Homo sapiens: one gene and its partner. The protein of the gene in region 1 interacts with the protein of each later gene in a pairwise test. Each region holds a gene or a part of one and is shown on either strand. Other genes may lie near its edges.

Region 1 (3,811 bases):
ACGCAAGGTTAATTTCCTGTCAATTCTAGCAACAATATGACTTTCCTATCTTTAACAGTAGTCCCCGCAAACGCTTCAGGGAGGTCTGCAGCCTGCACATTTTGAAATATGTTTAAGTTGTCTTATATTTGTTATCTGGGGCACATAGGGTGGGCCTGGTGGCATGGGGCGCCCCTGGCAGATTTGAACTAATCTTAGGTGAGTGTGCGGCGCCCCCGCGTGGCGCCTGGCGCAACAACATGCTGGGTTCTGCGTGGGTCCTGGGCCAGGCGCCCACTACGTCTCCACTTCTCTCTCTCCCTTGGCCTATTGGTGCCCTCCGGCCGCACTCCCGCTCTTCCGCTGACCCATCCCTTAACAGCAACAGCCCTGCCCCTTACCCTGTCTTAGGTGCTCAGTGGGCACGCAGGATCCCGGGTCATCAGCCCCGACATGAGCGTGCACACACACACACACACACCCCTCCACGCCTCGCAGCTCTTACAGCTCCACCCAACACAAAAGATCCCCAGGTTATTTTATTGCTGTACTCAGAGGTCAGTTAATGCCCCCGGCCGCCTCACCCTCCCCCCGGCGGTGGCTGAGTCCTCTGCTAGGGTTCGCGAACGGCAGCGGGTCCGAGGGTCACCTCTGCATCTCGCCGCCGGAGGCGCCCCCGCCTCCCCTCCCCGCCGCCGGGCCAGCCGGGGTCCGAGGCCCGCAGCCCCCGGCTGGGAAGGCAGGTCTGGAGAGGCCGCTCCGGGTCTGGAGGGAGGGGAGGCTCTCCGGAAAGGGGTGGCGAGAGACCCCCGCCACGACTCCCAAGCTTCTTCGCGCGCGCTGGAGGGGACACGGTGGGCGCCTAATTCTCGGCGTAGCAGTAGGTCCCATAGGCTGCCTGTTGGGGCCTGGGGAAGCCGAAACTGCGCACTCCGGGATCCGGGAGCCCCCCGCAGCGCGGCCTCGGCGTGGTGATTGGGAAGCGCACACTGCCGTCAGCCAGCCAGCCGCCGTCGCACTGGTCTAGCCCCGAAAACTTCCAGGCGGCGTAGAGGTGCCCAACCTTGGCCACCACGGCGCCGCGTCGCCGGCACGCCGCGTGGGCTTCAGACAGCGTCAGCCGCCCGGGCACGAAGAACACTTGGCCTGGGGACCACAGCGGGTCACCGACCGAGGGCAGGGTGGGCGGAGAGGGGCGGCTGACACCCAGGAGGCGGAGTTGGGGTGCGGGACCGCAGAGGTGCTGGATCGAGCTTGGGTAAGAGGAGTTGGGGGATCGAGGCAAAAGTGCAGGGAGGGTTTGGAGAGGTGAGCTGGAGCCTGGGCGGGCGGGCGGGCTGATGGGGGGGCGGTGCCTTGGAGGGACCCGGAGACCCTGCCCTGATCTCAAGCTGAGGTCCACTCCTCGTCCCCCACATTTTTCAGACCCCTCCCCAAGACCCTGCCTTCGTCCCGCGCCTCACCCGCCAGCGCGGAGGTGAAGCAGAAGGCGTCGTAGCGGTCGCGCATCCGGTCGCGGGGTCCGTAGCTGCGGATCCCGGGCCGGCCTCGGCCGCCGCACGGGGCGCGTGCGGTGAGCACAGGGTAGCGCACGGAGCCCTCGAGCAGCCAGCCCGCGTTACACCAGTCCAGACCCTCGGTCCAAGCTGGCGGGAGACGGCGGAGGTCGGGGATAAGAGGCGTCATAGGCAGGAGCCAGACTGAGCTCGCCTGGCGCCCTCTCTCGGGCCCCTGAGACAGCTCCGCGGGGCTTGGGAAGTGCTGGGTTCGGCCGCTCACCCTGGTAGAGCTGGGAGTAGGTGGCCAGGCGTCCGTCCTGCTCCTCGCACGCCTGCTTCGCCTCGTAGTAATTGAACTGGTACCGGCCCCGGCTGGGTTGGTACGGAAACACCACACCTAGGGGGTGGCGGGGATCCTGGGGAGGGCCAGCGGATGGGAGCGGAGGGGGAGGAAGGGCGGCGCGGCCTGGGAGAGGGAGCTGGGGTCCCCAGGGGTGCGGAGGAGATACTGGGAAGGAGCCCTGGGAGACCCAGGCGAGGCGGACCCGCTGCTACACAGGAATGGGGCGGGAGCGGAAGGGCCTCACCCTCCAAGCTCAAGGTCAGCGCCACGCTCTCGTCCTCGATGCCGTTGATGAGCTCGCAGCGGTACCGGCCCTCGTCCTCCAGGCGCACGCCCGCGATGACCAGGGAGGCGTCTAGTCGATGCCCCCTCCGCATCCTGGCGCGCCCTCCCAGGGGCCCATACCCCCGGGCGTGCAGTCCGTTGGTGATGAGGATCAGCGTTTCCCGGAGCTCCCCAGGCTCCACCTTGCTCCAGCGCACCTTGTAGCTGGGAGGCGTGGTGCCCAGGACGCAGGGCAGCGTGGCCGTGGCCCCACGATGAGAGTGAATGACCTCGTGGATGGGGGGCAGGAGGTAGTGGGGGCCCGGGTGGGATGCTGGGCAGAGGGGGCCACAGTGGCAGGAACCCCCAATCCTCACTGCCCCAAGTGCCCATCAGACCCTGCTCCCCAAATGCTTTCTCCAGAGCCCCCCAACCCTCTCCTCCATTGCCTTCTCAGCAATGACTTTCAGTCCCTGGGTACCTGCAACAACTGCCCTTTCCCCTTTCCCCACCCTTGCAGTCTCCCCAAGCCTCCCCCAGATTCTGGCCTGGGCTGGGGTCTTACCTGGGTCTCCTTGGGCTTTGTGGAAGATGGTGAAGGCCCAAAGAAGGAAGCGGCAGAGTGTGGGGAGGGTGAGCCAGCCTGGCATGATGGGGGGTCAGCCCGGCACCGTCTGCAGGGCACAAAGAGTGGGCAGTTCTTAGGACTGGGGCAAAAGGGTGGGGAAGAGCAGGGTTGTGGGTGAACTCCCATCAGAGATCCTAGAAGGGACTGTCCAGCTGGAAGCCACTGGGGCAGAGAAAAGGGGTTGGTGACAAAATGAAGGTGATGAGGGGAAGAAGGCAGTAGCAATCCCCTTCCTCTCCCTCTCTTCCTCTGTCACATCCTCTCAGCCTGCAGGTACTAATTTAGCATCTTCTCTACCTGTCCCCCTCATCACAAGTGCTACTTCCCAAGCTTGCCATCTGGACTGCCAGCTCGTCTCTATCCTCTCCCAACACCCATTCTCCATCTTGAAGCCAGAGTCAAAATGATCTTATCACTCTCCTGCTTTTTTATTTTATTTATTTATTTATTTATTTATTTATTTATTTATTTATTTTTTTGAGACAGAGTGTTGCTCCATGGTCCAGGCTGGAGTCCCGTGGCATGATCATGGCTCACTGCAGCCCCTAACTTCCAGCTCCAGGTGATCCTCCCATTTCAGCCTCCTGAGTAGCTGGAACTACAGACATGTGCCACCACACCCAGCTAATTGTTTCTTTTTAAGTTTTTAGTAGAGACAAGGTCATGCTGTGTTGACAAGGCTGGTGCTGGGATTACAGCAGGCGTGAGCCACCGTGCCTGGCCTTGTCACTCTCCTGCTTGAAAGTGACTCCCAGTTGCCCTGAGGATAAAATCCAATCTCATAACCACAGCTTCCAAGGCTGTCTATAATCCAGTTGCTCCCTGCACCTCCAGCATGGTCCCCGCCTCGCCTCTTAACCACTTTGGCCTCTGCACTGTTCCCCTGACATGCTGGATTTCTGGCAGTTTCCCACACAGTCCAAGTTTGCATTCATTTCCTTTCCTTTGTGCCTGCATTGGTCGCACAGGCCTCACCTCCTTTGGGAAACCTTTACCCACCCCCAGTTTGCCACACTGTAGTGCACTGTGATCTGCTGGACTGCGGACCTTTTTTTTTTTGAGACAGGGTTTTACTCTCTCGCCCAGACTGGAGTGCAG
Region 2 (3,500 bases), on another chromosome or scaffold:
TGGTAGGTCATGTTCACAGTTGTCTCTGGGTGGAGGGGTGCTGGAATATTGAGAACTGAATCTGCTCTTGCTGAGGTGCTTTCAATCTTATCTGCATTCTCTAGAAGGTTCCTGTTTTCAGCAACAGATGTGGTGACCTCTTTGCTTTCCCGTGCTTCTGAGCGGCCACTTTGAGGGTCCAGGGGCTCAGGCACCTCCGTCTTGTTCTCTCCAACAGAAGGATTGAACACCAAAACCATAACACTGTCCTTATTCCCACTGCCCAACCGCCTTTCCTCCTCAATGACATCCAAGGGCTTGCTGTCAGTCAGATTATTAGGAATAAAAGCCACATGACTGTCACCTGGTGAAAAGCTGCTGGATGTCCTTTCACCCAACTTCTCACCTGCACATGGTGAAATTTTGCCAGTGGGCTGATTATCAGCCCCTCCTAAGGAAGCAGAGCCCTGTTTGGGGGTGGTGTGGAGAGAATCCTGCTCCCCTGGGTTGACTCCTCTCTTCTCTTCACAGTTGCCTCTTCCCACCCCAAGGTGGTGGAGGTCACTGTTCAGCAGATGGCCAAGTGCATCGGTGGCTTCCGGGTGTGCTTCCCCACATGGATCCCTTCCCTCCAAGGCTGACAGATTCTCTTCCTTGTGGCATCCCAGATACCCTTCCTGGGCTGCCTTTCCCTCCTGTTCAACTCTCCTGGGAGGAACATATTTCAGATCCAGCTTGGCCTCTCCCTTTCCCTGACCTAATTGTGCTTCCAGTTTACTTGGGATTTCCTTCGATGCCAAAGTCAAATTCAGAGCAGGCTCTGGATGGGCGGAATGTGATGTGTGCTCACTGCACACCTGCAGTACATGTGCCCCCACTGTTTGGGTCTCTGAGGGAGTGCTCTGCTTGCTTTCTGAGGTAGATGGTTTAGGATGACGCACACTCTTTCCCTCTGAGGTACTGTCAGTTGCAGGGAAAGCTGCCGGGACAGCGTGGTCTGGCAATGTCTTCTGTGGCCCCTCCCCACCCCCAGGTATCTGACCCCGTGCTTCCCGGGAGTCGAGGGATAGAGGCTGTGGATGCTGCGGAGTCAGGCTCCCGACTGCAGCTACAGAGCTGCTTGCTCTTTCCAAAGAATGCCTCCTCAGTTCCTCATTGTCAAGGGTCTTTGCCAGTTTATCCTTGGGAACATGCCGGGGAATTTCAGCATCCCTTTTAGCCAAAACGTCTAGACTGGCCTCACTCATCACATTCCTCCAACTCGACAGACTTGGTCCCTGAATACTCCGCGTGGTCTGCAGGCTATCTGTGCCTCTCTCCACTGTGTGCTCTTCATTGAGTTCCCTCTGAATGGTTGAAGAAAGTCTAAAATCTTTCAGGCTGGCAGAGCCAGCCTGAGAGCCTTTCCCAAAGCCCTGAAGTTGGTGAAATTCCTTATGGAAATGGGTACGGTTTTCTGGCTCACTTGAATTTGTATTTCCAATTTCATCTCCCAGGTCACATGTCTTGGACTCGTCATGAGAGGAGCTGACCTCCAACATGATTTGATTGGCATTCGTATCTCCCAGACTTAAGATGCTTTCATTATTATTTCTTGCTGCATTTCTGTTGTCCCGCAACTGAGTGTAACATGATTTCTTAGGAGCCACTGGGACGCTCATTGTCAACCCTTTGGTGGGGCTGCTTGCCATGCAGTCCTACTTAATGGAAATGGGCTGCCTTCAAGCTGCAATCAGATTAAGAGGAAATTCTCAAGCTGCTTGTTCTCCCCTGACAATGTCACCTTGCGACACTGCTTTAATCATTCTCAGAACAGCTTGAAAACCAAGCATTGTCTTGATATACAGCAGGAAGACTTATCTGTTAGGTTCCTGCTGAATGAGAGCCAATCAGTCCATGAGACCTAGAGAGAAATAAAAATATATTCACATTAGATTGACAAATAGAACTTCTCAGGAGAAAAAAGTGGTAAACACAGATTTATTTGTCATTTCTATATTATTATTTCATTCAATCAATAGTTTTCTCAAAAAACCTTTCTGATCAGGGCTCCTCCTGGCCAAATACAAAAATTAAACATCAAAATGTTTAATGTTAGAAATGGATTATAAATGCATGTGAGATCTTAAATCTAAATTTTAAACATCCACAAGTCTATACTGATACTGATTTAAAAGGATGGAGGAGAAGTAAGGGCTCTTCTTTACAGAAGAATATCAACGAATGTAGAAAAAAATTATAGAATTTGAAAAATCACTATTTTGCAATCGCTACATTCATAATTATCTTACACAAGGGATGCCAAAGGTACAAACATTGGGTAAAAGATTGTTGGGGAACAAGATATTCATAGATGCTTAAAGTATCTTCCCCCAGGCTACTTCATTTCTTACAAAACGAAAATTTTATCTTTACAATGGAGAGATCTGGTAGACACCACATTAACCACGTGATCAAATTTAACATCACTAGTAATGAAACTGACATTACGGACTCCTGATATTAGTTAGTTCTCAGGGCCACACATCACCTATGCAGTAGTTAATGTTCAACCAGAATTTAACCATGAGACAATAATCTGGCAAATTTAAATTGAGGTATGTATTGCAAAATAACTGGCCTAACTGGTCCCAAAAAATGTCAGCGGAGCCTGGATTTTCAAAACATGTTAGCAAAGGATATTATTAGGACAATTAGAGATTTAAATATGGACTGTATATAAGGTACAGGTATTTTATAATTAATTTTCTTGGGTGTGTAATCGTGCTATAATTATGCCAGAGATTAATTTGGTTCTTGAAATATACATGCTTTAGAATTCAGAGGTAGTATGTCATGATTTTTCTAACTTATTCTCAAATGATTCGACCAAGAAAAACGTGTATGTATGTGTGTGTGCATATGAGAAGGAGAAAGAGTAAAAGAGAGAAACTGGCAAAAGTCAACCATTTGAAAATCTAGGTAATAATTCTATTACATCTGCAACTTTTCTATAGGTTTGAAATTTTCCAAAATAAAAACTTGGGGGAAATGCTTTACTCTGGCCTTCGAGGCCTGCATGATCAGGCCCTGAACACCTTTCTGGCCTCAACCCCACCTCACCCTCTGCTCTGCAGGCTGCAGCCACATTGGCCTCATTCCTCACAGTACCATGTTCATTACTCTCTGCCTCAGGGCCTTTGCGCATACTCTTCCATCTGCATGGAATGTGGAATCCTCCCCCAACCTCATCTTACAAGTCCTTTGCATCCTTCAATATGCAACATAACTACCACTTCCTCCAGGAAGCGTTCCTCACTAGGTCATCCTATAATGATGGATTTGTAGTATCCTGTATTTTCACTTTGAAGAATTAAAAAAAGACTTTCAGATTTGCTAGACACTGAAAATAAATATTGTCTAATACCTGGCATACATATTAGGCACGTATTATGTATTTGCAGCACAAATGAATGAATAAATGTCCAAATGAATGATGAGGAAGATCAGCGTTATTTCTGCCCCCAAAGAGTTTAAAATCT

Evidence for each region. Proteins that work in one complex are often made in the same cells at the same time.
Region 2: the proteins of HAPLN2 (region 1) and MTUS2 interact in binary tests that used the Homo sapiens proteins (3 or more experiments, as listed by UniProt).

Annotation. Positions count from the first base shown.
Region 1 is NC_000001.11:156,622,415-156,626,225, reverse strand, and holds the end of HAPLN2 (hyaluronan and proteoglycan link protein 2 precursor), read right to left. Parts: intron 2,760-3,811; coding exon of another isoform or gene 2,736-2,759; coding exon 2,651-2,735; intron 2,420-2,650; coding exon 2,066-2,419; coding exon of another isoform or gene 2,062-2,065; exon of another isoform or gene 1,929-2,061; intron 1,876-1,928; coding exon 1,759-1,875; intron 1,626-1,758; coding exon 1,443-1,625; intron 1,126-1,442; coding exon 842-1,125; 3' UTR 501-841; downstream 1-500. UniProt on the Homo sapiens protein: Mediates a firm binding of versican V2 to hyaluronic acid. May play a pivotal role in the formation of the hyaluronan-associated matrix in the central nervous system (CNS) which facilitates neuronal conduction and general structural stabilization.
Region 2 is NC_000013.11:29,022,839-29,026,338, reverse strand, and holds part of MTUS2 (microtubule-associated tumor suppressor candidate 2), read right to left. Parts: intron 1,883-3,500; 5' UTR 1,671-1,882; coding exon of another isoform or gene 1,641-1,670; coding exon 1-1,640. UniProt on the Homo sapiens protein: Binds microtubules. Together with MAPRE1 may target the microtubule depolymerase KIF2C to the plus-end of microtubules. May regulate the dynamics of microtubules at their growing distal tip.